Regions from separate parts of the Homo sapiens genome. Here all the other regions are reported to be linked to region 2. Evidence: microRNA targets listed by miRTarBase, many of them from high-throughput screens and not tested one by one. Region 2 holds a microRNA gene; each other region holds the end of a gene's coding sequence. Distances are between the middles of the regions.
Evidence for each region. Region 2 holds the annotated microRNA hsa-miR-6808-5p (CAGGCAGGGAGGUGGGACCAUG, at 3,007-3,028, opposite strand). A microRNA usually pairs through its seed, bases 2 to 8, with sites in the 3' UTR of a target mRNA and lowers its output. Matches are read on the target gene's strand: a 7mer-m8 pairs with bases 2 to 8, a 7mer-A1 pairs with bases 2 to 7 and ends in A, and an 8mer does both.

Region 1 (4,069 bases), not on the chromosome of region 2:
TACAGCCTCAGAGTATCCAGCCGTGGTCCCAGGTCTAACCCCAAAATGTTTAGAAGGAAGGTTATCCAAACTTCTGACTACTCCCCACTTTGCTTCTCTTTGTAGAGTGACAACCAACAAGCTGCTGCTTTCCATTATCATCTTACTGGAGCTCGCCATCCTGGGAGGCCTGGTTTACTACAAATTCTTTCGCAGCCATTGAACTTCTATAGGGAAGGGTTTGTGGACCAGAACTTTGACCTTGTGAATGCATGATGTTAGGGATGTGGATAGAATAAGCATATTGCTGCTGTGGGCTGACAGTTCAAGGATGCACTGTATAGCCAGGCTGTGGGAGGAGGGAGGAAAGATGAAAAACCACTTAAATGTGAAGGAACAACAGCAACAAGACCAGTATGATATACCAAGGTAATAAATGCTGTTTATGACTTCTTTAAATTTACATAGTACTGTAGCATATTAATACCCTGTGAACTGCAAAAAACCAAATACATTTACAGTAGTATTGGTCACCAAAATAGAGGGGAAACTTTACAATTGTGAGAATGTGTAAATGTTCTCATTAAGGCAGTATTGACCCAGACAACCATTTAGTATTCATCTATCCCCTCAATGCCTCATAATTCTGGAATGCCTGTTGTGAAACATGTCAGTGCACAGTGTCTCCTAAATTCTCACACGTGCTTGATTTTCTGATTCATCTGGTGAACTGGGAGTAGGAAGTTGGTCATAGACAATATGCCCTCCTTCTCTTGTCTGACCAAAGCTTGAAGCAATCACATCTACTGCCAGGTTAGCTGTAGTCTTCGCCTCTTCCTCTGAGGTGGCCAACTGAGGATTGACTTCAACAAGATCCAGTGCTGATAGCAACCCTGGAAGAACAAAGTGTGACAAAACCTCAGGTTCCCTTGCTGCTACTCTCAGTGAGGGTCATCCCACTGGGACAGGGAGAACAAGCCAAAGTAAAAACAAGAGTCCATTTTATAGTAGAAAATACCTATTTTTAGGAAGCCCCTTGCACCTCATCCTCTTGGCCATGAATTTAAGTTAAAACACTGTTGTGCTATAGTAGATTAAAAGAAACCTTTTAAGATAATGAAATAAACCATCCCTGTTCAACTAACATAACAGGCATAATTGTCAGGCGTTCTGGAAAAGGAAAAGGCTTGGTGTTGGGTGGGGGAGGTTTTCATCCTGCTTGTTGGCAAAATGTATGCCACCTCCAGTATGACTAGGAACCTTCCAGATGCCTGCCTGGAAATGAATCAAGTATGAAGGCAGAGGAAATCTGCCACTTGCACTAGCCAAACTGCATTCCCACTTTTGAACTCTAATGTGTTATCTGTATCTGTTAGAGCACCACACCATATGCCCTGAAATGTAGTTATTACTGCAAACTTCATTCTCACCCCTGCAGGCCTGAGCTCTGGAGGCAGGTTCCACATCTAACAACATCTTTTTGTCTCCCAGCAGACTGACCCAGTGTCTTGTACTTGATCAAGAGAAAATTCAGCCATATGTTAATTATTTTATCTGGACTTCAGTTACCTTCTGTTAAGGTTTGAGAACTTGTGTCAAAGTTCTCGGTAGTGTTCCTTTGGCCTGGAGCAAGTGGAAGGGAAGCTTAAACCAGAAGAACCTATCCAGACCTGCTACTATGCTCACCCCTCTAAATGCCTCACTTCTCTATAGAATTTAACTTTTTAGTTGGTTATTCTGGATGAAGGGTGATCTGAACAAGCTAGTATTCAGGAATACAAGTATCTAAGAATATTTAGGGTGGCCATAAAGTCTGGAAACACAGGCAAATGTACCTAATGGTTTATTGATATTACACTATAGTACATGATGTGCTGAATGCCATCATGTCCGTTCAGCATCTTCCCTTATTAGCAATGCATAGTTGAGTGTACAGTGCCAAACTGCAACCAACAGGTGTATTACTGTAGCATTTCCATCATTTCCTGCACATGGACCTGTGTTCCTGATTTGTCTCTGATTTCCACTGACTAAACCTGCACCTTTAGCATATCCCAGAAGTGGTCATCAAAGTTTGCACTATTAGAAATATATACATGACTTATGTTTCCAGACTATTGCCACCCTATAAATTAAGCAAACTGCTTTATGTATCTAGTTGACAGCATTATAACAGTGCAGTGGCACAATCATGGCTCACTGCAGCCTCAACCTCCCAAGTAGTTGGGACACCTGGCTAATTATTTTTTGTAGAAACGGGGTCACACTATGTTGCCCACGCTGGTCTTGAACCCCTGGGGTCAAGTAATCCTCTTGCCTTGGCCTCCCAGAGTACTGGGATTATAGGTATGAACCACTGTGCCTAGCCCCATGAGTGTCTTTTGGAGTAAAATATTGTAGCATAGGAACAAAGAGACAAGCCATGCCATATATAAGTGCTAGAGGTTATTAACCCCTGCTCTAAGTGGTGTTTTTAGGAAGCAAAGCAGAGAATTGAACCCCCAAGTTCTCTGGCCAATAACCTAAGGACCACTGGCAACATCTAAGATTGCAGATCTGAGAATTAGACCAGTACTGCCTGCCTTTTTGTACTGCCTAAGGTTCTGGCAGGCTGTGGCGCTAAGGAGACCATTTCTCAATGTGAGTTTCTATCCCAGCTAGTCAAGGGTTCTCTATAGCCCTGAACCTTTCAATCTGGGGTCTCTATCTATACCCTAGTTCCATCAGATGGTTACTGAAGCAGTATGATTTGGTAGTTCTTTAAATTTTGGAATGAAAGGTCATTTGAAGTAGCTTTAAAACCAGAAGCTTTCTGACAGAAATGGAAACTGTTTGCAAACAAGTATGAGTTTTGGAAAAGTAGCCAGTCTTGATAACGTAGAATTCATCTTAGTACTCTTTCCATCAGCCATTCTCATCTAACTGTATCCCCCTTATTAGAAATCCTTTCAGGCTCTAGTACAAGACCTACCCTACATAAAGGACCCAAGATATTGTCCAGTTTGCAGATTTCTTCAAGAGATCAGCTTTAGCTCCAAATTCACAACTCCCAATGAACCAATCTCTTAGAGTGCAAATTACAGCCTTGCACTCTTATCTTATCTTGCCTTCTTATCTTAATCTGCCTTTAGATAACTCAAAGAACTGCATCAGTTTGACAATTTATTCTTGTATTTAATTGTTTAAATATACAATTTTTTACTCATTATTACCTTAGTGTAATTTGGTAAGAGCCATGTCCAAGCATGACTCTAAAGGACTATATCCTTTTTATTAGCATGGCCATATAATTTTTAGCTACAAAAGTTTAAGCAAAAACAAACTCTGCAATGATGTGGAATAGCAGAAAAGATCCTTTGCAGGCAAGAGACTCTAGCATATTTACCTATGTAGTTAACAGGCTGCAGACCTGGTTGCTACATACCTGTATTGTGTATTTCCTCAGCAATATACATGCCTTCTCGATAGGTTAGTCCCCCGACAACAGGAGTTCCTGTGGCTGGAGCCAGTGTAGGGTCAAATGCATCAATATCAAAACTCAAATGGATTGGTCTTTGTCTCCTAAAAAGGAAGAGGATAAAATAATACTTAAAATAATACTTAACTGGTTGTCCTTGGACACTCATCCTTCTTATGGTTGCAACTCCTTGATTTTGTTGCTATTAGTCCTAGTACTTTGTTAATAAAGCTGTTAATACATTTCCAGGCTTCCTATTCTTGGAAGTTACTGAGATTGGCAATATTAACTTCCTACATACCACTTCATGATACTGCCATTTGTTCTGCATACCTCAGACAGACTAACTCCAATGTATATTTCTGCCTTACACTGGGTATTAGAACCTCTTATACTAATAACTGTCAATAGAGAGATTTCTTCACTTCTAGATGAGATTGGGCTCTCATCTAGAGACAATTTAATTAGACAATTTAAATTAGTCTAATTTAAATTGGCTTGATGTAAGTTATGGTTGCTCTTATTCTCTGAACGTAACAGCAGCTGAAGTGAACTCTAATTTTAGGTCTGCAGTTTTAACATCTTCCATTTCTAACTTCATTATAGCCCCAGTGTCCAAAGGCTGAAGCTAAC
Region 2 (4,075 bases):
GGTCGCAGGGGCAGCTGCGGCAGGCATGGGCTGGTGGGGGCAGTGGGAGGCAGGCAGGGTCCTGGGGCAAGCTGGGCGCCCCCACACCTCACCCCGATGCTTGAGCTGAGGGCCTGGTCTTGCGGCTGAAAGACTGAGGTGCCAGCGAGGGCCCCTCATGCCCGGTGCCCCCGTGGCCATCCTGGATTCCCCACCCAAGGCCCCACTGTCCCCCCGGCCCAGGACCCTGGCCGACGGATGACTCAGCTCAGCCCTGTCCTGGGCTCCCAAGACGCAGTGGGAGCTGGAGGGCGTGGCTGGCTGGGGACATGCTGAGGGACCCCGGGCGGGACCCTGGCTTACCGGCCCAAGGTCCGCTCCGCTAGTCCTTCAGTCTAAGGCTTGTTTAGCACAAGACAAGGGATAGCACGAGTTACACGCCCGGCTGCCTGGCACCTGCCCAGCACCCACCCGCCACCAGTGGGGACTGACCGCGGGCTGGGCGGGGCTGAAGTGGGCGCAAGCGCCGGTCGAGGGTCAGTAGACACCCAGCGTGGCTTCTCTGCGGTCCCACACCCTCTGGCCGCCTCTCCTCTCTCGCCCTCCTTCCTGGGCCCTCCACGAAGCCACCTGCACCCCTCCCTGGCCTGCAGACGCCCCTGCTGGCCTCACCAACCCCACCCACTGGGGCCTCTGCTCCACCAGGCAACACCTCAGGAACACTCTGGATCCCCGGCCCCTAAACACACCCCAGCCAGGGGCACAAGGCTAGGATGCACGGCACCATCCACGTCAGGCTCCCTACCCGGGCTGCAGCTGCCACCCTCCTGTGTCCTGGGGCCTAGAAAGTGACCCTGTCAGACTCCTTGGCCACCCCTGCCCTGTCCTTGTCACATGGCCCATGGCCACATGGTCTCAGGGCCTCCTGCCTCTACCATAGGAGAACCACCAGCCGCCACCCCTACCAGGCACAGCCGCCCAGGCCGCCAGGCTCCTGGAGGCCCCTCATCCCAATCCCACCCAGATGAGGTGGGGTCCAGGCTGCCCCTGTGTGAGACGCTTCCCTGTCCTCCCCATTCACACTGGCTCCTGGATCCCCCTGGCACTTGCCTTTTCCAGAAGGAGCCCACCCAGGGCCCAAGTACACAGCAGGAGCATGGGATTGGGGTCAGCAGAGAAGCAGGGCGGAGCAGCAGCGGGGTGGGGTGGAGCTGGGGGTGGAGCAGCAGCGGGGTGGGGTGGAACTGGGGGCGGAGCAGCAGTGGAGTGGGGCGGAGCTGGGGGCGGAGCCGGGGAAGGGCAGGTAGGGGCGGCGTTCTCACCTTCACTCTGCTGACTCCCGGTGCTGCCGCTGCCATAGCTAAAGCCCGGGTCCTGGTAGGCAGGCGGGAAGCAGGGTGGGGGTCCCGGGTACTGGTAGGGGTAGCCCTGACCCAGAGGCCAGGGGGCAGCCGGGTGGGGCAGCGGGGCCAGCGTGTCCTGATCCGAAGTCCCACTGGAGCCACTGTTGAGGTTCAGGGTGGCGAGATCTGGCGGGGGAGGGTAGGTGAGGGCCGCGGAGGGGCCTCCGGCGTTCCCCTCCCCCCCGCCCTGAAGCCCGAAGCCCCCACTCACTGCTGCAGAGATCCCCGAAGACGTAGTAGCACTGCTCGGAGAAGGTGATCTTGTTGACCGTGTGCCGCAGGAAGCCGTGCTTCAGCAAGCTGCTGGCGTACTTCCGGGCCTCCCGCCGCTCCTTGAAGCCCTCCACGTGTGTGTACAGCCAGTCCACCACGTCCGCCCCTGGCCGGCACCAGCGGTCAGCCCGCAGCCTCGAGGCAAGCAGCCCTGCCCCTGGCACTATCCGCCCGCGGGGACGGCCACTCACCGATGACGGCATTGGCGATGGTGATCTTGAGCCACATGCGGTCGCGGATCTCCAGTCCCGAGTCTGGCAGCTGCATGACCCGGACGACGGCGCTCATGTCACTCTTCACCGTCAGCGGCGCCTCTTCCAGCTCTGCAAAGCACAGACAGCCCCGCTTCAGCCCCAGCATCTGAAGGCGGGGGACTCAGGGCCCTGCACCCCCAGGGGAGCCTCTGGGCAGAGCCTGCGCCAGGGCGCAAGCTGGACGGTGCGTGACAGCAGGGCCCCGGCCCACTGCAGGATGCACCCCCGTGAGGCTGGGGCGTGAGCAGGGGGGTTGGACATTTAGTCTCCCACTTCTACAGACACTTTTCATCAGGATCCTAGGCACAAACTGGGCTGACACCCCACCCTGCAGACCAGGAAGTAATGAGAACAGGGCAGGCCCCTTCCCCTCCCCGCATGCCCCACCCGAGAGCGCAGGCTGTTAGTCGTGTTAATGGCAGGAAGCAGAATGGAGACCTGGCCCCTGCCTCTGACGCCGTGGGTGCTCCCCGCATAGGGGCCCTACGTACATCCCCTGTTCCCAACACACAGACCATGAGCAGGATGGGCTGCACAAGGTGGGCACGGGTGCCTGTGCACACGTCTGTGCAGGGAGTTGGGGACAGGCAACACACACGTGTCACAGCCCCATGACGGCCACAGGCGGCCATGCTGGAGGCTGGCAGAGACGCCCCCTCCAAGCCTCGGTTTCTGCTGGGGCCCTCAGGAGCTGCCACTTACGTGGAGCACCAGGCACGGAGCTGGTTAGTGAGGAGGAGCTGGTGCGCGTGACGGCGCTGGAGCAGGGACTCGTACCGTAGCGGGGCAGGGCTCCTGTCAGTGCCGCCGTGTGGGACAGCCAGGCGGCGGGGTCGATGGGCCGCACCGGGTCAGCTGGGTGGCCGCCACGTGGCGATGACAGGCGGACAGATGGACAGGGTGGGAGGGCAGGGTGCAGGGCACAGAGGAGAGAGGCCTTCAGGCTAGGTAGGCGCCCCCTCCCCATCCCGCCCCGTGTGCCCCGAGGGCCACTCACCCCGTGGGACGGTGAAGTAGCTTCGGGGCGTTGGGTCCCAGCACTTGGCCACAGTGAGGCTGATGGGCCTGCAGGAACGGTGGTCACACAGCAAGGCCCCCATGGTCCCACCTCCCTGCCTGGCCCCTCCCGCTCCAGCGCCCCCAGCCCTCACCCCGTCTGGGAAACGATCTCCCGCAGCACCCGCACGGCATCGTCATTGCTCATGTTCTCAAAGTTCACGTCATTCACCTGCAGGGGTGGGGATTAGGGTGGTGCAGGCAGGATGTGCAGCTCAGTCCACCGCCCCCGCAGACCCACCCACAGCCGCATGTCCCCCAGCAGCCCCCGCAGACCCACCCGCAGCCGCATGTCCCCCAGCAGCCCCTACAGACCCACCCGCAGCCGCACGTCACCCCAAAGTCCCCACGGACCCACCCGCAGCTACATGTCACCCCGCAGCCCCCACAGACACACCTGCAGCAACATGTCGCCGGGCTCGATGCGGCCGTCAGCGGCCACAGCCCCGCCCTTCATGATGGAGCCAATGTAGATGCCGCCGTCTCCACGGTCGTTGCTCTGCCCCACGATGCTGATGCCCAGAAAGTGATGTCTTTCTGCAGGAAGAGCCATGAGCCGCGGCCAAGCCCCTGCCCCTGCCCCCAACCCTCGCCCCGAGGCCTCACCCATGTTGAGCGTGACAGTGACGATGTTGAGGGACATGGTGGAGTCGGTTATGCTGCTGAAGGAGGAGGCCTATGGAGGAGAGGGGGCGTGTGTAAAAGGCACGGGGCTGCCCGACACTGACTTCGCCTCCCCAGCCCCGCCCTGCTCCACCCGGCTGCCTACCCGGTCCGCCTGCCGAAGGCGCTGCTTCCTCCGCCGGCGTTTGTGCTTCCGGATGAGTCTGGATGAGGTGCTCTGCTCCGTGGAGCTGCTGAGCCTGGGAACAGACTGTCAGAGCTCAGAGGAGCTGGAGACATGGGTAGGGGGGTGGGAACCCGCTCCCCCAATACTGAGTGGGAATCGGGGGTCTAGGCCAGGCTTGTTCCAAAGCAGGCTCAGTGCCTGACGTCCACGCCCCAGGCCCTGCACACGTGATATGCATATGAGCACACACGAAAATCCCAGAGACAGGCAAACTGGGCACAGACACATGTAGCCAGATCCACTACTGACACACCTGCACA
Region 3 (4,072 bases), not on the chromosome of region 2:
ATCTACCATCATTTCAAAAAAGAGGGCTATTTTGATATCATAAAAGAAGGATAACTTCAGAATTTAAAAGCGTACACATTGAACTTTAATTAGAAAATAACCGTGTATTTCCTGTGGCTTTCTCATTTTCTGTGGAAGGATGAAAAGTTTATCATCATCTCTGCAAACTAAGGCTTCTTTGCCTTGAATACTTAGGGGCAGCTGCACCATTTGCAGATGTTATTTATTTCCTTGAAGAGGTGTTTTCAGGGCTGTAAGAGAACCCTGAGGAATTCAAGTGCAAAAATCTCTTGGTATCTTGCCTCAGTTTCCAATATTAATAGCTGTGTGGTGAGTGTTCAGCCAGAAACGGTATCATTGCTTAAGTAAAAAAGATTGTGGCAAGTAGCATCATGGAAACAAAGTTGAAAGGTTTTCTTAGAAATGATCTCATCTCTGTGGTTTTCAAATTAGTGCTCCATGGAGCCACAGTGGTGTTGCTTGAAGCAACAGACTTGCATTTTAATTGTTTTACTAGTTAAGTTTCTGATTAAGATACAGTTCAGTTGCTTTAAGAAAATGGCTGACCACCACTGATCTAATCCATCACCAATTTAAAGGGGAAACTAAGGCTAAAAGGAGGTAAGGGATTTGCTTGAGGCCACCCATTTAGTTAGCAGAACTTGGTGACACATCACCAGTGGAGTGGGGGTAGGAAGGATCTTGTCAAACCTTCCTAGTGTCTGTTCTCAGGTCATCAATGGTTGTACCAAATCTTTCCATCACTCCATTGCAGGGAGTCCACTCCACCTGACAGTTTCCGTTCTGAAACAGGCTCCTTTTCATACTGGACTCTGCATTCCACCTGACACACTTTCCTACATAATAGTGATAAATATTTCACTGACAACTGTTGGAAACTAATTTTTAAACTCCAGTTCTGCATTTTTGCTCCCATTTTGACTACTATTGATAAAAGTTTCCTTTTTTGAGATGGAGTCTTGCTCTGTCACCCAGGCTGGGGTGCAGGGGCACAATCCTGGCTCACTGCAAGCTCTGCCTCCCAGGTTCACGCCATTCTCCTGCCTCAGCCTCCCGAGTAGCTGGGACTACAGGCGCCCACCACCACGCCTGGCTAATTTTTGTATTTTTTTTTTTTTTAGTAGAGACGGGGTTTCACCGCGTTAGCCAGGATAGTCTCGATCTCATGACCTTGTGATCCGCCTGCCTCGGCCTCCCAAAGTGCTGGGATTACAGGCGTGAGCCACTGTGCCCGGCCTAAAAGTTTCTTTAATAGCATTTATTGGCTGGGCATGGTGGCTCACACCTGTAATCCCAGCACTTTGGGAGGACAAGGCAGGTGGATCGCTTGCAGCCAGGAGATTGAGACCAGCCTGGCCAACATGGTGAAACCCCATCCCTACTAAAAACACAAAAAAATTAGCTGGGCGTGGTGGCACGCACCTGTAGTCCCAGCTACTCGGGAGGCTGAGGCAGGAGAATTGCTTGACTCGGGGGGCGGAGGCTGCAGTGAGCCAAGATCGAGCCACTGCACTCCAGCCTGGCGACAGAGTGAGACTCCGTCTCAAAAAAAAAAAAAAATGTTTAGCTGAGTGTGGTGGTACACACCTGTAATCCTAGCTACTCAGGAGGCTGAGGCATAAGAGTTGTTTGGGAGGGAGGTGGAGGTTGCAGTGAGCCAAGATCATGCCACTGTACTCCAGCCTGGGTGACAGAGTGAGACTCAATCTCAAAAAAAAAAAAAAAAAAAAAAAAACTGTACATATATGAAGACTATAGAGCTAATATTTATATGAATATCATAATTTACAAGGTATTAAAATGTTTGAACTACATTGTCTTGTATATAAACTGAAATGAAGTGGTATCTACTTACTGGAGTTCCTCAGATAGCTGATCACATTGTAGGCTGAAAACATCTACAAGTCAAGTCTATCAAGGACCATATCATGCACTCATTGTGTAGAAGGCCCCTCAATGGCAAAACATACCATCTGGTAAGTCTGGACACAACTCAGCTGCACAGAGCAAACAAATGACGAACTCATATAATTTAAAACAGCGTTTTCACACTGTGGATCTTAACCATGGGCCATGAAATTCAATTCAGTGGGTTGTGAGAGGATTAACACACACACAAACCCACTGCCCTACCAAACACAATCCTAGAAGAGAAAAATGTCAAAGTATGTTACATGGCTTATGAGTAAATATTTCATAAACATTTTATTCCAATCATATATGTACGAACACATATGTACTGAGTCATGACATAAATTTTACAATTCTCTAGGGCAAAACATTGCTCTAAAGAAAAGCATACTTGGCCGATCAGTCCCTTGAGAAGACTTTTGTTTTTGATTTTTTGTTCACTTCTGAGCAATGACTCTACATCCTGAGTACACGGAAGCCCTCTCTCCTCAACTTGATAGCAGTGCTCTTTAGCACAGCCAGTTCCCGGCTCAGGCTGTTTTCTGGAGGGATGTGTCCTCCTCTTGCAGCCCTGTGAACTAACTGAAGGACAGCTGCAGCGGTGCATCTGAACCTGCAGCGGAGGCAGCTCAGGTCCTGCCTACAGCATGCACATGTGATGCCAGGGGCTTTCCACCATGATTTTTCACTGACATGATTTCCTTTCATTCACCGGTAGCTCTGCCTTACCTGTAGAGCTCAAGCTCCTAGCACAGAACACAGGGGCTGAGTAAAGGCTTCTAAATACATGCATTCAACAATAAGCACATTCATTTTGCTATAAACCATAAATATTACACTCAAAATATAACAGTTTCTAACAAAATAAAAAGTTTACCCATTTCTTCATACTTAAGAACTACAAAAGTACTATACAAACCTTTATTTACATTAAATCACAATAGGTACATAAAAAGTTGAGGCACTGGTATCTGTGGCTAATGGTAGTAATCACAGCTCATATAGTAAAGTGTATAACATTAACCTTTTAATTTTGAGCTGTTGCAAAATTACCATTTTAATATTATATATACCATATATTCAGTACCAATTATGACTTTTTTCTAAAATAATAATAGAACATGATGCCCAGGGAAAAAGAAAATACTTAATAACTTTCCCAAGTGCTAGTAAAAAACACATTGGTATACACCTGATTTGAGGGGCAGACATGATTCAGCCTATGAGCCATTAGGAGAGCGAAGCAAAGCTTTTTTAAACTGGAAGGACACTCATGCTGATTCGGTACAGACTCTTCATCTTTCATACTGGGAAACAATGCTCACCGGGGCAAGTGTCACATCATTATGTAATATAGTAAGAAAGATGTCCCAGGTCTCCTATTAACAAACCTAGAATCTTTTCTAATTCATAACAGAGGTTTATACTATAAATACAATCATATTCTTGAAAGATCAAATCAAATATCAAGAAAAACAGATCCATGACAATACTTTAGACTTCAAAAAATCCTAAAGCAATAATTTAATAAAAATATATGTCAACAACTGTGTTCAAGATAATAGAATCAGTGTGGAATCCAGTGCCGTAAACAGTGATGGCAGCAGTTTACTGGTGCAGTAATTCATTTATATGCTTATGTGGTACTCTGTGTATTGGTTGCGTTTTCATCTGTATCACTTGGGCTAAATTTCTTCCATAAAAATTTCTCATTTGATTTCCAAAGAGAAGTTGCTGGCTCTTCTCTCCTTTTAAAGGGTGCTGCTAGAGGTGCTTTTTCACACAGAGTCTCTATTACTGCCAAGTCTGTGAGTTTACTAAGACTCTCATCATTCTGCTCATTCAAGATGTCCCAGAAATCTTTTGGTCTCTGTTTTGCTTTTTCCATGGGCCCTGAAAGAACTTTCTTTGGCAGTTGTGTGGGACTGTTCCCATGACTTTTAAAAAGGTCATCAAGAATAGAGGTATCACCAAGTAAGCTTATCACAGAAGTATTTTCCAGCACTGGATTTTCTATCTTTTTGTTTTCCAATTTGAGAAGGGGTTCTTTTCTTGAAATGCCCGTTCTTGTGAGGTCCTGTTGGTCTTTCATGGTATTTTCTAACCTTCTCTCACGTGTTTCAGACTCACTGTTCAGAGA
Region 4 (4,000 bases), 18 Mb from region 2:
ATGGATCTCGGCAGACCAGAGTCAGAGTAACTAATTAATCAGAGCCTATCCCCAGAGCCCAGCTTGTTCCCTCCCTAATGCGCCTTGTCCCTTCCCCCACCCACCACATTTCTGAATTTCCTGCAGCCCACCCACCCCCTCAGATCCCCACCCCAAGACTTCCAAGGAGCTGAGGGGTCAGAGGAGAGGAGAATGGGGTGAAGTGGGACCTACACTCTGCTGAAGCTGCTCATGGGTGTGGATGACCAAAAGTGAGGACAGAAGACGAGGCCGGGGGACAGGAATGGGTTCCATTCAATCCAGCAACAACATGCACCATGTCTCGTCCACAGGAAAATGCTGGGCTACCACAACTGCCTACCCTAGATTAAAAAACCCTTCCTTTCATAAAAATAGATGAGAGTCTCTTGCTTTATAAATAGATTACATTTAGCTTAAGTTACATCTTATATTCTCCCCCACCCCACCCCCTCTCCTCCCACTCCAAGCTTAAGTGGTTTAATTCTCCCTAGGTCATCTGAGCTCTACCCACAGAGTTAGTCCACGATGGATTTGGCCCTTCAGGGACCTCAAGACATTTTCTCAAGACGAGAAAGAAAAATGTGTTGATTTGCCAATAATTTTTTTCTCTGTTCGGAGTCTCAGAGGAGTGCGAGTGTGTGTGTGTGTGTGTGTGTGTGTGTGTGTATTTCACAACCAACCAGGGAGCCAAAAGGATGCTAGTCTTCCTATCCCTCCCCAATCCTCTGTTTGTATAAAACCCCCAAAAACAGGAGACAGAGGGCAGCGCAGGAGAGCCCATCTGAGAAAATTCTAAAATACCAGTGTCAATATGACACTGGGCTTAGAAATAGAAAGTCAAAATTAAGTATTTACAGCTTTACAAAGGATGGACCAATTCGTCCCAGCTAGGACTGGTGCTGCCCCAGCGAGCGTTGGGGTCTTTCTTGGCAAGCTGTGGGCTCATGGTGAGGGGACAAGCAGGGCCCACTGACATTAACTGAAAAAAGCATGTGGTGGAGAGGCAGGCAGGCAGGCAGGCAGGCCGGACCCAGGAACCAGCCCAGGAGGCAGGCCCATCACACTCTGGCTTTCCCTCTCCTACCCACCTGCCCCAAGTCCTCACTCCCAAGAGGAGAGCAGATATTAAAAGCCAGCCAGAAGGGACTCTCAGGCCAGGATCTCTTTCTGGCTCCTGCAGTTTTCAAACTCCCTAGAGTACCCTAGTCCTCAAAGACAAATGACCTATGTATACAAGGAGGAAAGTAAAAATAATACCGCCGGACACCGATAACCACAGTAACCTTAGTTACTCCCATGCTAACACTGCTGCCTTACAGTCTTAAGTCTAAAGATATATCTGTCACCCTCCCACCACCTTGGGGAACAACCCAGGGCCGGCTTCCACGCTGCCCACGAAACTCCCATACCACATTGTCCAATGCCTCCCTCGGCCCTGGACGGAGGAGACCCACGAGGGTGGATGTTTTCCTGCCCTCGAGGAAACGGAAAATCTTTTTAGCAGCTGAGGTCCAAGCCCAACTGGCTCTGATAACCTTTGGTTAAAATAAAAATTCAACAACAATAACAACAAGAATCAGGTATGTTTGAACCCTGTAACCTTTAGAACAAGGGTGAGTGAGGAGAGAGAAGGGCCGTCTCTCTTCCAAAACCATTGTCCCTCCAAGTACCTGTCAAAGGGAACTGTTTGGCTAACAAGAGATGCTGACTATGGAAGTGTCACAGCCAGACTGCCACAGGGGACCCGTGGGAGGTGCCCCCAGCAAAAGAAAACAAAGGAAAAAACTCATGACGAAGGCCACCAAATCGTGATAAATTACATCACACATAGTCACTAACACATTCTCACGCTCTCTCTCTCTCTCTACATATATCTTTTATGTACAGTATTTTTAAGACTGTAACACAGGTGGGGGAAACAGAAAAGAGAGAAGAGCCTTAAAGGCCACGGACCCCTGGGGACCACAATCCCAGTCAAACCCAGAGCCCCCTCCTTCTGCCTCCAGGCAAGGCAGAGGGACCCAAGTTCTAGTCCTTGGGCACATTTTGCTACCTTGACCACTAGAGGGAGCTCCTGGGACAATAAAAAATTAAAATTGGCAACAGACCCACTGCAGTAGGCTTAAAAAATAATAATAAAGCAAAGCCTGCTCAGCTGGCTCCAAGCTGAGATTTGGAAGGGGGCCACACAGTGCCCTTCAACGCAGTCCCACTCAAGCCATTCAAGTCTTGGGGGATGCTGGCTCAGATCAATACCCCGACTGGCCAGTCGAGGGAACTGCTGAGAGCGGCTTGCGTGTGTCGAGGAGCAGAAAGAGGATGGCCCTCACTCCAGCTCCTGCACTGCCAGCAGCCCACCCTGCTTCTCTCCTGCCAGCAGCCAAAAGCAGGCAACTGCCGGACAGTCCTAACCCAAGGCGGGTAGAAGGGAGCAGAGACCAGGCCTGGCCCCTTCAGACTTTCTCACAGAGAAATTACAGATCTCTAAGCCTCTATTGTTGGCTGGCGAGGGAGGGAAGAACATCAAGTTATCAGGGAAATCAAGGATCCCTCCGCCCCCGCCCTGAACCCAGAGGTCCGGAAGGAAGCAAGCGGTCAGGGAGGCCAGTGCCTTGCGGGAACCCCAGCCTCATGACCAACCTCGGCCAAACCCACACTACCCAGTCAGTGCTGCCACACAGATCACCCTAACCCCGGCCTCTCTCCCAGCTCCAGGGGGAAGCCAGGAGCCCAGGAGAGGTCCTGCCTTCCACAATGATATAAGGCAAGCTGCTTTTGTTGTTTGTTTTGTTTTTTGCATAGTAGTTTAAACACAGTGAGGCTCTGCCTTCCCCTCACAGTGCCTTGTCCCTTCAACTTTGCCACTCGATCCCCCCAAAAAATTAAAATGTGTCCTCCTTCCCTTCCTTCCACCTTTCTCTCCTTCAGGGAGTGAGAAAATTGGGGTGGTCCCTACCCAGGCCTAGAAAGCTCACAGAGGCAAGCGGCTCCTTCCTGGGGGTTGGCAGAGCACCCCAAGCTCCAGGCCGAGTCTGGGCTGGCTCAGGAGGAAGGGAGGGCATAGCCCATGGCCAATCAGAGGAGCAGGTGGGACGGACGGCAGAAACCACATTACACCACGGCCGGTTGGCCCGGCCCTCAGCTTAGAGTTCTGTATAAAAACACCTGCTAGGAATAATTCTTTGGAGCTCAAAGTGGCTCAGCTTAAGGGAGAAGGCACAGTTAACACTGCAAAGTCCGCACAGAAGTCTGCATTTGTAATGTGGAGAACAATAGAAATTGACAGCACCATTCCTTGGGTGGGTGGGGGATGGAGACGGGGCACCCGTTGGTGGTGTGGAAGGAAGGAAGGAAGCAGCAGTCCCTCAGGGCCTCCAGAGAAGGGAGGGCAGAGAAAGTCTGTGTGGTGTGGCTTCGAACCCCACTCCGAGGGGCCTTCCTGGCCCCATGAGGAGAGGTGGCAGGGCCCCATCACCAAGACCACCAGGCTCGCAGGGCCTCAGTCATCAGCTGACCATGGGCTCCACATCCGCCTCGCGCTCGAACTCATCCTGGATCTCATCTGTACTTCCTGAGTCGCTGCTGGCCACGGAGCTGGGGGACGGTGAATTCCTGAGAAGCACAAGAGAGTGGGGAAATTCAGAGAGCAGCCCTGGGCCTCTGAAGGGTCAAGGAGTGGGAAGGCTGAGCTGCCACTTCTATAAGATCTACTCTCAGAGGGGCCTGGTCCTGAGCTCCTGCCTCACTCAGCTATCCTTAAGATCCTTTAAGCTCACGAGGTAACCCCCTGCACCAGCCCCTACTTGGTCTGGCTGTGTTGGCTTCTCTAGGAAGAAAGCCCCTTGGGAGCTGGACCGTGGATCAAGTTTGGCTGTTACTCTCCAAGCACCTAACCCATGTCTGGGCATATAGTAGGTGCTAAGTAAAACCTGAATGACTCAGAGCTCAAAAGGAGGCCATGCGGGATATGGTTAACATC
Region 5 (4,072 bases), not on the chromosome of region 2:
TGAGTAGGCAAGCATTTCCAGAGAACTTGAGGAAACTAGATTTTAACACTCCATATTTAAACTTCACCAATGGTAGCGATAAAAAAATGCCCTATTGTATAGAGTACCCTTGATATAACAAACTCCATCTTAGAATAAGACTTCATTTTATGTTTCAGAGGGCACTTTGCCAACAAGGATAAGATGTTTTGTTTAATAAATAAAAAAGATAAAGATTGCATCCAATCAGATAAAGACACAAACAAGGACACTCGTCCAAGATCAGTTCTCACCAGAGGCCTCTGTGACTTTAAAATGTCAGGCCTTCAGCAGCTCGAAATGGGGCTGTCTTAACTGATACTGTCTTGCAGTCACTCATGATAAGAACTTGGCATCTGCTTCTGCCACCTCAAACACTTTTCCTTGCAAGACTGACCTGCTCCCACTGGACTGGTTCCTTAACCTTTCTCCTATCTCTTTCTCCTCTTCATGTTCAATGCTACTTTGTTTATTGTGGAATGTTTAATCTGTAATATATGTATATTGATTAAGCATACTATTATGTATGGTTTCCCATATTGACTGACTTGTGGAGTGGCTCAAGCCTGTGTGCCTGCGGCTCTGACTACCAAGAGAACAGGAGGTACTAAAGAGAATTGCTTCCTTGGGAACTCCATGTAGCCTCTGGCTTTTGTGACTGAATTAGCATCAATAAAAGCCTGACATTCTGGAAAGACACAAGCATGTGTGGACCTGGTTATTTTTAACCTGGCATCGCTCATGACACCTATGTTCAAAAAATTCTTTTTTTTTTTTTTTCTTTTTAAAACTGCTATTGGGGCATTATTCAATGTCTTCAAACAAAGAATCCTTGACAAATTTCCTTCAGAACCAAGCACTGGGCAAAAATTTCTTCCTTCTGACGAACTGTTTCCTAAAATTGCACACAAAAAAGAATTCTGCAACCAGTTTTCTTTTTATAGGTTGGTGGACAGCTCAGAAGTAAGTTTTATGTTTAATTGCTCTTATTCCTCTCATTCAGAATTTATTGCTATTGTTTCTTCTTTATCCTTTATTTTTTGGTTCATGTTGGTTCTTAGAACAGTTTTTACAACCTCATTTTTTTTTTCTGAAGTGGGTGGTATAAAAAAGTTGCAATTAATTCAGGAATTAAAAATGTGGCTCCTAAGACATTTCTTTCTTTCTTTCTTTCTCTCTCCTTCTTTCTTTCTTTCCCTTTCTTTTTTTCTCTTTCTTTCTCTTTTTTCCTTTATTTCTTTCTTTTTCTTTCTTTTCTTTTCTTCTCTTTCTTCTTTTTTTTGATAGAGTCTCACTCTTGTTACCCAAGCTGGAATGCAGTGGTATGATCTTGGCTCACCGTAACCTCCACCTCCTGGGTTCAAGTGATTCTCCTGCTTCAGCCTCCTGAGTAGCTGGGATTACAGGCATGCACACCCACCTAATTTTTGTATTTTTAGTAGAGACAGGGTTTCTCCATGTTGGCCAGGCTGGTCTCAAGCTCCTGACCTTAGGTGATTGACATGTCTTGGCCTCCCAAATTGCTGGGATTACAGGCATGAGCCACCACGCTGGGCCTTATTTTCTAATGGCACTGCATTCCCCTGTCAGAATATTTGCTCCTCCCTCTCCATTGTTTATTTACTTGAAGTGAAAAAGGACAAAAAAGCAAAAGACAGCAAATTGATGGCAGAAGGTTTGCCTGGAAAATTCCGAGGGACAAAGAAAGAACTGGCAAATAATGCCCCCCCGAAACAGATAGGTCCTGGGGAGAAATATGATTTCCACGTTTGCAGACTCCTTCTCTTGTACAAACGGGTTGGGAGCTGGTTTTGGTTCAGTTCTTTCCTCAATGCTCAGGAAACAATTGAAATTACAAATGCGCCCCAGGTGCTGTCTTCACCAACGATGCATGGAAAGATGAATGTGTTTACATGTAGTCAGGGGCTGGAAGGTGGAACTCACAAAAGGATTGAAATTAATATGCAGAAGAGGACCTGGGAGAGTTCCCTATCCTTCCTGCTAAGTGCATCCCCAGGTTTCTAAAACATCCATTCAGATCTTTGTATTTGTTTTAATTTGTCCAGAGTTATTCACAAGGTTTTAGAAATCAATTAGTTCTGTAGTTGGAAGATTACCCATTAGGTAGAAATACAAGAGTCTTGGGGCTATTTCTCTTCAAATAGGTAATTTTTGACTTTCGTGCCTGTGTCTAGTTTTGAGGAGGAAAGATCTGATGCCTCCTAATTTTCCTTGTGTGTTTTTAAAGGCATAGTAACAAACATTGACTCCAGTAAGCTGTAGGTGCCAATGGGTGCGTTAAATGAGGTTTTAGAAAAGGAGACTTGAAGGAGGCCCGAACAGCAGAGGGAGTACTGGCCTGGGAGTTGAAACACCTGAATTCTATGCTTGCCCTGCCAGTATCTAGTACGGTAGGAACAGTGGGCCGTTTGCCACCTGGCGTCCCATGCATTCTCTCCCTCCTCCCTGCCCCAGGAGGCTGATCCTCCAGACTGCATCACCCAAGGTCCCTTGCTGTCTGGCATCCTATTAGGTTGGAGATGACAGATGGGAAACAGAGACTCCCATCTCCGGCTGTAGAGATCTCAGCGCGAATACCTCCTGTATGTTCCCCTGTCCTGCTGTTCTGGCCCTTGCTTTTGGCCTTGTCACCCTTTGTTCTCATAACCCTGATCACACCTAGCTAAGTGGTCCCCTTAAGTTCTTTTCATCTGAGCCATCTGGGGTGGACTCTGTTTTCAGGCACGTCTCTGAATTTTACAAATGGCAACCAGCTTTAGCAAACTGGAAATGGGTTTGAATTCCAAACCACTGGGATCACAGCGGCTGTGTCTGGATTCTTTCCAGAAGGCTGCCAGGTGGGAAGAGAAACAGGGAAGATGAATTGGTACCCACTTGCCTGGTCCTTTGCAGACTGCTGCTCTATCTCCTGAAAAGCGTTAAGACCAAAGACAGCTCCGTTTTACCCACCAAACATATTAATACACTCAGGCACTTAAGGATAAAGAGCTTTGCTCATGACTCAACCAAAAAAAATTTTAATGGAATTTTCTTCTTTTTTTTTTTTCTTTAAATAACAATTTGACAAAAGGGTGAAGAAATCCTAAACAAGGTATTGAGGCCAGTGTCCAGGCTGCATTCAGTTCACAGAACTGTCCTCAGGACGTTGCATGGAACTGGAAATGTGTATAATTACAGAAGAAAACAGGGAGGACTTAGTGCAGAGAGGAGACGAGTGTGGACGGGCAACAGCATCCTTAGTCTTTCATATTTATATATGGTATATGTATTTTCTATATATATATTTATATATTTTACATCCAGGTATCCCAGTCATCTGTACCATTTCCCAGGGAGACATGGGTGCTTCCAAGGCGAGACAGGAAAGGGTTAGGCAGGGAAGGGGCAGCGACGGTGCAGGCTGGGGCTTGGCTCACAGAAGCTGCAGGAGCTTCAGCGACTGTAAGAGGGCCCCGGGCTCCGCAGACGCCAGGTACTGGCAGCAAAGCCAGTCCTCCAGCTCCACGCCCCGCCTGCGATCCACCGCCTTCTCCGCAAACTTCATCATCATCAGGGCCCGCTTCATGTCGATCCAGTTGTGCAGCGTGCCGCACAGCGCCTCCTCCGAGGTGCCCGGCTGCTGCACCAGCTCGCGCCGAGGCCCCCACAGCAGGCACTGCAGCACGCGCTTGGCCTCGCCGATGCGGATACGCTTGATGGGGTCGGCCTCCAGTAGCAGATGTGCCAGCTGCTGCAGGCCGGGTGAGTAGAGGGACAGCGCGGGCAGCGGCGGCAGGTCCTCCTGCCGGTAGTCTCTCTCCCGCAGCTGGGCGCGCACCTCGAACGGGTTGGGTTGGTGCAGCAGCTCGTAGATGAGGATGCCTGTCTGGAACTCATCGAACTTGCGGTACTGGGAAGCAGACACGATCTCGGGGGCCAGCCGGGCCTGGCTCTTCTTCTGCTGCAGGTTTGGGGTGCCGCCCGGCTTCTGCTTGGCCTTCAAAAAGTTGCTGATGATGAGCCGGGGCAGCTGCTTCTCCCGGGGCCCTTCCGG
Region 6 (4,075 bases), not on the chromosome of region 2:
CTGCTCCACCTGAGGGAAGAAAGGTGGGCTCAGCCTGGGTGCTGAAGACCATGAGCGCCCAGGGCCAGGTGGGGCCCTGCACAGTTCTGACCATTGAGTTTGGTGTCGCCCGCAGGGTCAGCCACAACAACAAGGTGAATCTCATGACCAGCGAGAACCTCTCCATCTGCTTCTGGCCCACCTTGATGAGACCTGATTTCAGCACTATGGACGCCCTCACAGCCACGCGCACCTACCAGACAATCATTGAACTCTTTATCCAGCAGTGCCCCTTCTTCTTCTACAATCGGCCCATCACCGAGCCCCCCGGCGCCAGGCCCAGCTCCCCCTCTGCCGTGGCTTCCACCGTCCCCTTCCTCACTTCCACGCCTGTCACAAGTCAGCCGTCGCCCCCACAGTCGCCTCCACCCACCCCCCAGTCCCCAATGCAGCCACTGCTTCCCTCCCAGCTTCAAGCCGAACACACGCTGTGAGCCACCAAGACCTGGGGCGACAGGAGAACCGGTCCTCTCTCTGACGGGGTGGCATTTGGCCTTGAACAAAACCAAGTCCACTGGGGACAGAGGCAGGGGCAAGTGGCTCTCCCCATTACCTTCTCAAGACCTCAGTGGGAGCACCAGCCAATGGTACCATCGGCTGGGCTGCCAGGTACCCTGGGCCTGGCGCTGCAGACCTGAGCTGGCTTGGACCCATTTGAGGACTGAACTAGGCAGGCAATGGCTCCAGTGCCCTCCCTCTGTTCCCTGGACCACCACCCCACGTAGCTGCTCACACCAGCCTCCGGGTGCCTCCCTCTGCTTGTACAGAGCCCATGGTCGGGACAGTGCCCTGGCCTTTGCCGGGGAGGAGGATGCTCTGAGATTCAGGGTGGGGCTGGCAACCCCTGAAGAGAACACTTCCTGTTGGTCTGTCTCTTCCCACCTTCCATCTGCACACACCCCCAAGGTAAGGGTACAGCCCGGCTGGCGGCCTCCTTGGGAACGTGTAGGCCACGGCTCTGCCACCACTAGGTACCTGCTGAGGGCGCTGGCTCTGCAGATCAGAACAACGGAGGATAGCTTTGTGCCTGGACCCAGAGAGTGTGGGACTCCCCGCTTCATCCCCACCGTCCCACTCCACAGCCTTCCCGAAACATTCCCTGGCAAACAAAGGAACACTAGGAGAAAAAATGGAAAAACCCTTCCAGTAATTAAAAAGGAAGAAACCACAGAAAGAAAACTACAGACCTCAAGATTCCACTCTGTGCCCGCCTCTGCCGGGAGGGAGGGAGGCACACAGGTGGAGCTGACCCTCGTCTTTGTGGCAGCAAAACCAGGATGCCTGGAGCTGTGGCCTGAGGGCCTGCTGGGGTCCCACTCACCCACTTAGGTCTAGTCGCTAGATCCCCCGTTTTCCCAAGAAGAGGGTTCGAGCCCTTGGTGGGGACAGCTGGGGAGATGGCAGTGCAGGCTGGAACCTGGGCTGCCCCAGAACACAGTCCATTACGATAGAAACACTAATTGAGCATGTGCGTGGGGTGGGGGTGTGTGTGCACATGTGAGTGTGAGTGTGTGTGGGCGCTTGGTGGGGGGTTGGGGACAGCTGGAAGGTGCCAGGTGCACTTGGGGTTGGGGTTGGTGTGTTGGGTGTTGAAGTGGAATCGTTTCATCCCAGCCATGGAGGCCACCAGCAGGAGTGTTCATGGGGATGTGGGCGAGGTGGGGCACTTTGAAGGAATGGCGGTCTGCTGGTGCCCTCGAAGGGGCATCCTTCCTGGTCTTCGCTGACCCAGAGGCGCTGTGCCTGCATATCATCCACCACCACCCTAGCCCAGCCTTCCCACTGCCCCAGGAAAAGCTCTTCTCCTGGCCACCTCTGCCCCCCAGCACCTCAAACTTGCATGGCTGGGCTGTGGCCTCTGCGGCCAGGAAGCCTGACACTAGGCACCCCCCAGGCGAGAGCTAGTGGGGTGCAGAGGGCCCCATGCCAGACAGCCCTTGGGGCTCGTTGCACTTTAAGAAATAGGATCTGTGGTGTATTCCAGGGGGCCTGATGGACACCTTTCCCGGGCGTCTGCAGCTGCCCTGCCCGTGCCCGCCTGCAGTGGTTGGAGACGGGAGTGGCCCTTCGGCTCCCGAGCTCCCTCTGGGGACGGCTGGCTCACTGTCTCCAGTTCTCAATGGCCAACGAAGGTGCTTGGAAACACCTAACCTTGCAAGTTTTACCGCCTTTTGAGGAACACAAATCGGAGAACAAACCCAGGGTTCAGGCGTGTTTTCTGTGAATGTTGGATGATGAATTTTTGTCTCTTCTGGTGGAGCTGTGCCTGGCCCTGTAGGCCCAGGGTTGGCTGGAAGGTGACATCTGTGTTTCGTTTTAGCTGAGGTTGGCAGAAACGTTCCCAAACTCCCCCAGCCCTGGACCCCAGCAGATGAGGAAACGGCCCCATTTACTGACCCCGCCCCCTTTTCGAGGTTATGCTCACCTGGTCAGCTCCTCACGTAATTGGGGGTGGAGGGAAAGCATGGTGGTGCCCTGGGCCGTCCCTGTGTGAACGCAGGCAAAAGCAGCCCAGTCCCCCTCACTGCTTGAGCTAACACTGCCACCTCTTTTGTGTGAGCACAAAAGCCACGTCCCAAGCCACCTGGCCCGATTCCACAGATGTATGTGCGGCCAGTGACTTCCCCAGGAGTGTGGAGGGGGTGGTGAGGAGGAGCACCTGGGCTCTCTACCCCTCTCCTCACAGAAGTACCTGAAACTAGGTCTGGGGCACTCCCAATGCAGCGCCTTGTCAGCCAAGGTGGGCAGGCAGGGACTGTGGCAGCTTATGTCCAAAGGGAGCCCCCATGCACAGGAAGCCACAGGGTTCCTCTTGTTTCCCCCGCTAACTTCAGCCTCTCATCTGCTGCTCCGGGCTGAGGGACTAGAGGACATCTCGGTCGTTTGAGGGGCATGGCCAGTCGTGGCAGGCCGGCCTTCAGCGTCCGGTCAGGGAAGCGTGCAGCCCAAATGGGCACTTGCATGGGAGCCACAGAGGAGCGTCCCTGGGGATTGTTGGGACCATGCTGCCCCCACTCCCGCTTTTGTTGGGGCTCTAAGTTCTGGAAGGTGTGTGCACAGAGGGTGCTCATGGGACTCGCATGCAGCTCTCAGCACTGGGTGGGAGGGCGTTGGCTTGTCCAGAATGGGGACGTGGGGCAGCCACCCCTGCCCAGCGAGAGCGCAGACACCGTGTGAGGGGACAGCAGCCCTTGGTGCAAAGCCAGAGACTGATCCTGGCTCTGACGGCTGAAGAGGGAAGACCCAAGGCTGGGTGGCGTGGCTCGTGAATCCACTTAGAATTCTTGGCTTGTGTCGCATACTGGGTGTCACGGCACACATTTACTCTGCATTGTCCCCGTCTTTCCCATCGCCTAGCGTTTGGGGAGGAACAGGGAGAGAGCTTCGGGGCGTCTGTCTCCGTGCTCTCCTGCCTCCACCGCCTTGGTTTTGCTTCCTGCTGGAGGCAGGGCACCTGCTGCGACCCAGATTCTTCTGCAGGATGTGTCTGTCTTTGTCACGGTGGACAGAGGGTGACATCATAGGAGCAGCTCGCTGGCCAGAAGGGGATGGGGGCATCCCTGTGCCTCACTCAGCTCCTGCTGCTCTTAGGGAAAGGAGGCCTGGGTCAAGCCAGCATCCCCTTGGTAAAGACCCCCGCAGGCCACCAGGCATTCTGGACACGCACACACACACACACACACACACACACACACAAAACTTCACAGCAGGCCAGCTGCAGTGACTTGTCATCAAGAGTCACCTCAGCTGCGCCCCCCTCCCATCCTTTCCTATGAGAAGCCACTGCTTTGGGGGCGCCGGCTAGAAAAAGTAGGGTGCGGTGGCCAGGAGGGCCCCTGCCGCGCGGGGGGCTGGGTCTGGTTGAGTCGCTGCTTTCCCGAGGGCAGCGCAGGGATCCGGGGAAGCTGCGGCAGGGAGCGGGCGCCGGCTTCGTGGCTCTGAGGTGTAACGGGGGTGGGCTCCCTCCCTCGGAGGACATCGTCTGTGTCCAGGTCAGAAAGTGGCCCAGGAAGGGGGCAGTTTCTGTCGCGGGTCC
Region 7 (4,070 bases), not on the chromosome of region 2:
CACCTCCCACCCCAGCTGTGGGTCCATCATTTCCTCTGATTAATTAGGGCCTAGGGGTCAAGGGAGGCCCCGAGGGAGGACTCTCAGTGTGAACAAACCAGCAGCCAGGGCCGCAGAGAAGCCTGTGAGGTGCCCACAGGGCCTGGTCCCAGTGTGGGCAGAGCACCTAAGGGATGGCTTCTGTCCACTGAGAAGGGTCGGGAGCCAAGACACCACACTGCTATCCTGGCGCTGGAACCATCCACGCACTCCTGCAGCCAGGCCACGCTGAGGCAGGTAGGCACCCAGAGGTCCGGGCTGGGGGCTGCTCTCCATGGCCCCAGGCCATCACACATCCCTCAGGGCGTCTGGGCCCTGCCTGTGGGCTGGACTGCAGGCTGAAGGCCCTGCCTCATCCAGGACTCCCTAGGGCAGTACTCGGTGCTCTTTCCCCTCAGCGGCCTGAGGAGTCTTTCAGAAGAGCTGGCCCTCCTGGGTGACACCTCGGCGAGGGTCCCAGCCCCTAACCCCAGGACTCCCAAGAAGTCACTGAGGTCCCCAGAGCAGGGAGAGCATGACCAGGTGGCAGGGCCACTGGCCTGGAGAACGTCCCACACTGTTCCATGAGCAGCTCACGCTGTCACAGGACCTGGGGACGTGGGTCTCCTGACCCTGCAGGCCCATCCTGCAGAGCAGGAAGCGTGAAGCCAAGGGCTGAACCCATGGAGGGCGGCCCAGCACTCAAACCCCCAGGGATGGTGAGGCTCCTTCTGGAACTGGCCTCACAGCCACACGCGCCCCAAGGCCCAGCCCCTGCAGCCACGTGGACAGCTCTGCCGGCTTCCACTCGCTCCTGTGTGCCCAACGGTTCAGAAATATTATTACTCTGCACTGTTACAGGAACACAGATTTGATGTTTTAATAAAAATACGATTTCTACAAAAGGTGCTTAACACGGCCCAGGACGGGCTGTCCGGTGGAGTCAGCCGTAGGACCCCTGAAGGATTTACAAAGACAGAGCCGGCTCACCAGCACACTCCTGCCAGCACCGGGACCCACTGCGAACAAAGACAGAGCCGGCTCCCCAGCACGCTCCTGCTAGCCCTGGGACCCACTGTGAGCCACTGCGGGGTGTCCTTCATTTAAAAAAAGTCTGGACTGTGACACTGCAGAAGGAGTCTGAAAGCCCAATTCCTGAATCCCTGCGTTAGAACTGAGAGTTCAGGCCGGGCGCGGTGGCTCATGCCTGTAATCCCAGCACTTTGGGAGGCTGAGGCGGGTGGATCACCTGAGGTCAGGAGTTGAAGACCAGCCTGACCAACATGATGAAACCCCATCTCTAATAAAAACTTGCCCGTAATCCCAGCACTTTGGGAGGCCGAGGTGAGTAGATCACGAAGTCAGGAGATCGAGACCATCCTGGCTAACACGGTAAAACACTGTCTCTAATAAAAATACAAAAAAATTAGCCAGGTGTGGTGGCGGGTGCTTGTAGTCCTGGCTACTCGGGAGGCTGAGGCAGGAGAATGGCGTGAACCCAGGAAGCGGAGCTGGCAGTGAGCCGAGATCACGCCATTGCACTCCAGCCTGGGAGACAGAGCAAGACTCTGTCTCAAAAAAAAAAAAAAAAATTAGCTGGGCATGGTGGCGCATGCCTGTAATCCCAATTACTCAGGAGGCTGAGGCAGAAGAATCGCTTGAACCCGGGAGGTGGAGCTTGCAGTGAGCCGAGATCGCACCACTGCACTCCAGCCTGGGTGACAGAGCGAGACTCTGTATCAAAAAAAAAAAAAAAAAAAAAAAAAAGTGAGTGCTTAGCTGGAGTGAGGAGGAAACACTGAATTCCTAAATCAGGAATTCGTTTCATTTTCACCAGGCGCAGATATCCTAGCTCCTGAAAAAGGCCAAGACCGAGGGTCTGGCCCTGGGCAGGTGTAAGAAAGGACTGTTTTAAGAAGCTTATTACACAAAGCTCATATTTCTGGATCCACCACTGCTTACATTTGCACCCAGACACCACTTTTAGGTGCAAGAAGAAAGGTCAGGACATAGAGAAAAATGCACACAGAACGATGAGGGAGAATGACGAGGGAGAATGACGAGGGAGCAAGCCTGCATCAGAGCACGGCTGATGTCACGGAAGCCACCAAAGGCACCCACCAGAGCCTTCCCCACCTGCAAAGCCCCTGCAGCACCCGGAGGGCAAGCTGGCTTTTGGAGGCCATGCGGAGTCCAGGGCAGAGGGGACAGTGGGATGGGCTGCCTGTTGCAGTGGCTGTTCACGTCAACAGTGCTCAGCCAAGGCAGTGAGGACGAGGATGAGAGCCGGGGCAGCTGACTGGGCCCGCGATGCCGCTCACAGGAGAGGCGTCTGCACACACCTGGCAACTGCAAGACTTGTTCTCAAGGGTAAGTACACTTGGACAAACGAACACCAGGCTACTTACACAGGGTGAGAGAATTCATAAATATTAGTTAAGGATCTAAAACAAACTTCTCAAATAACTGAAAGCTGAAAGCCTCTGGAAGCCAACTGTCCCTGCACAAAGGTTTACAATTGAGAAATATCTCCTGTTCCTATTTTGTCAAGTTTCTTTAATGGCTGAACAGAAAGAAGCTTCAAGTAATGGAGAAGGCATTGTCTGAGTGCAGCTGCTTTCCTGGACGCCTGTGCCGTTCCTGTCTTCCAAATCCTATGCTTGGAGGCCCCTGGAGGTACATTTTTGCCAGGAACCAACCTGACCTTAAAAAGATGAGTGTGACACAGCCGGCTGGGCAGGAGGATGGAGGTGCCACAGGACACCACCTGCCCACGCCCTGGCCAGCCTGGCCATGCTGCCGAGTGCGGGGAGGCCACCCCACCCAGAGGGCACAGGGCAAACCCTAAGCACGGGGGTATTGCCCTTGAAGCCCCAGGGGATGCCCTGTGCCGGATCCTCATGCCTCATTGACTAGCCTGCTTGCTGAAGGAGCCCAGGGGCCTGAGCCTGCAACACTGCAAGGGGTGAGAAGGGCATGCTGCTGTGGGCGCACTGGACTCAAACCTCACATTAGAAGCTACAAAGAACCCCAAATGCGCTTCAGAGCCCCACCAACCCCCAAGCCAGGCTCATCCCTGACACAGTGAATCCACTGCAGCCCCCGTGGGAAACTCTGTGCCAATTGACTGCTTAAAGAACTGGGGGAAATAGAAAGCCGAGAAAGAGCTCCGATACACAAGGGAAACCGCACGTGAGAACCAGCACTCCCAGCAGGGAGACGTCACTCTCCAGAGGCCACAGAGATGGCAGACACCTCTGTCTCCACAATGACCCACATCCAACTGAAAGTGTGCAGGAAGACAGGTCTATTGACACTGAAATCTAGAAATCAAGGTCCACAGGCGAATGGAGGCATCTTCAGCCCTGAGGAGGCCAGGCTGTGTCTCCTGACGCCCCTGAGGGTGGGCACAGCAGCCAGCTCTGTGTGGGCGGAGTCCACGTGGTCCTCATTCTCTTCCCTGGGGACAGGGCAGCACAGTCAGATGCTGAGACTGAGGCCACACACATGGGGGCGCCTTCCTGCCTTGGCCCAGCCCAGCTGCCTCTGGAGCCAGGAGGCCGTGGCAGCCACACCACAGTGTGGATCCAGACACGATTCTGTGGAGGGGTTCCGGGATTCCAGACAGACTGAATCTCCGTGGAATGATGAAAATTAAAATTTACTTGATTATGGAAGTCTCTGATTTATTCCAGCCAAAATATTAGATGAGCCACTGAGAATCACCACAAAGCAATCGCCCTCACGGCCCTTGCCAGGGTGACGGCACAGCAGGAGGACAGGTGCCCAGGCCAGTGGTTCTAGCTCTTCACCTCTGCGACCTCCTTCTCTGCCTTCTCTTTGGCCTTCTCCTTCTCCTCCACCTTCTCCTCTTTTTCCAGTGTTGCTACAATCTCAGCCACCTGGCTGGTGGAGATGTGAACATCTTCTTTGTCCACCAGCTCAATCACCTACACACGTGGGAAAGGGAGAGGCTCAGGTGGCTGCGCCCTACAGCACAGTGAGGCAGAGGCGGGGCCAGCGCCGTCAGTCGCCCCAGCTGGGGTGGCAGC

Region 1: miRTarBase lists VTI1B as a target of hsa-miR-6808-5p. Seed matches in the 3' UTR shown: 7mer-m8 at 1,250-1,256, 7mer-m8 at 2,557-2,563 and 7mer-A1 at 2,571-2,577.
Region 3: the mRNA of ERCC6L2 is a reported target of hsa-miR-6808-5p. Seed matches in the 3' UTR shown: 7mer-m8 at 1,471-1,477 and 7mer-m8 at 1,334-1,340.
Region 4: miRTarBase lists IFFO2 as a target of hsa-miR-6808-5p. Seed matches in the 3' UTR shown: 7mer-m8 at 1,069-1,075, 7mer-m8 at 1,039-1,045, 7mer-m8 at 1,035-1,041, 7mer-m8 at 1,031-1,037, 7mer-m8 at 1,027-1,033 and 7mer-m8 at 1,023-1,029.
Region 5: the mRNA of PRAG1 is a reported target of hsa-miR-6808-5p. Seed matches in the 3' UTR shown: 8mer at 3,410-3,417.
Region 6: miRTarBase lists ARHGAP35 as a target of hsa-miR-6808-5p. Seed matches in the 3' UTR shown: 7mer-m8 at 3,448-3,454.
Region 7: miRTarBase lists LETM1 as a target of hsa-miR-6808-5p. Seed matches in the 3' UTR shown: 7mer-m8 at 1,496-1,502.

The regions. Positions count from the first base shown.
Region 1 is chr14:67,647,518-67,651,586 of GRCh38, reverse strand. VTI1B (vesicle transport through interaction with t-SNAREs 1B) reads left to right here. Exons shown (of 6, transcript NM_006370.3): 6 at 106-4,069. The coding sequence ends at 202. It overlaps ARG2 (arginase 2), which reads right to left. Exons shown (of 8, transcript NM_001172.4): 7 at 3,404-3,540; 8 at 1-872. The coding sequence ends at 667. It also overlaps a transcript of GPHN not described here. Among named protein-coding and RNA genes, the nearest start is that of VTI1B, 25 kb to the left of the region's middle.
Region 2 is chr1:1,336,676-1,340,750 of GRCh38, forward strand. It overlaps MIR6808 (microRNA 6808), which reads right to left and starts at 3,033; the gene lies at 2,975-3,033. DVL1 (dishevelled segment polarity protein 1) reads right to left here. Exons shown (of 15, transcript NM_001330311.2): 6 at 3,735-3,828; 7 at 3,572-3,641; 8 at 3,363-3,502; 9 at 3,061-3,137; 10 at 2,907-2,974; 11 at 2,612-2,764; 12 at 1,847-1,978; 13 at 1,594-1,761; 14 at 1,302-1,508. RefSeq lists a silencer at 1,269-1,328.
Region 3 is chr9:96,012,700-96,016,771 of GRCh38, reverse strand. It overlaps ERCC6L2 (ERCC excision repair 6 like 2), which reads right to left. Exons shown (of 19, transcript NM_020207.7): 19 at 1-4,072. The coding sequence ends at 3,569. Among named protein-coding and RNA genes, the nearest start is that of LINC00092, 7.1 kb to the left of the region's middle.
Region 4 is chr1:18,905,034-18,909,033 of GRCh38, forward strand. IFFO2 (intermediate filament family orphan 2) reads right to left here. Exons shown (of 9, transcript NM_001136265.2): 9 at 1-3,633. The coding sequence ends at 3,528. Among named protein-coding and RNA genes, the nearest start is that of ALDH4A1, 4.5 kb to the left of the region's middle.
Region 5 is chr8:8,314,703-8,318,774 of GRCh38, forward strand. It overlaps PRAG1 (PEAK1 related, kinase-activating pseudokinase 1), which reads right to left. Exons shown (of 6, transcript NM_001080826.3): 6 at 3,034-4,072. The coding sequence ends at 3,452. Among named protein-coding and RNA genes, the nearest start is that of PRAG1, 70 kb to the right of the region's middle.
Region 6 is chr19:47,000,216-47,004,290 of GRCh38, forward strand. It overlaps ARHGAP35 (Rho GTPase activating protein 35), which reads left to right. Exons shown (of 7, transcript NM_004491.5): 7 at 116-4,075. The coding sequence ends at 473. Among named protein-coding and RNA genes, the nearest start is that of NPAS1, 18 kb to the right of the region's middle. RefSeq lists enhancers at 2,246-2,991, 2,992-3,738.
Region 7 is chr4:1,810,606-1,814,675 of GRCh38, forward strand. It overlaps LETM1 (leucine zipper and EF-hand containing transmembrane protein 1), which reads right to left. Exons shown (of 14, transcript NM_012318.3): 14 at 874-3,968. The coding sequence ends at 3,819. Among named protein-coding and RNA genes, the nearest start is that of FGFR3, 19 kb to the left of the region's middle.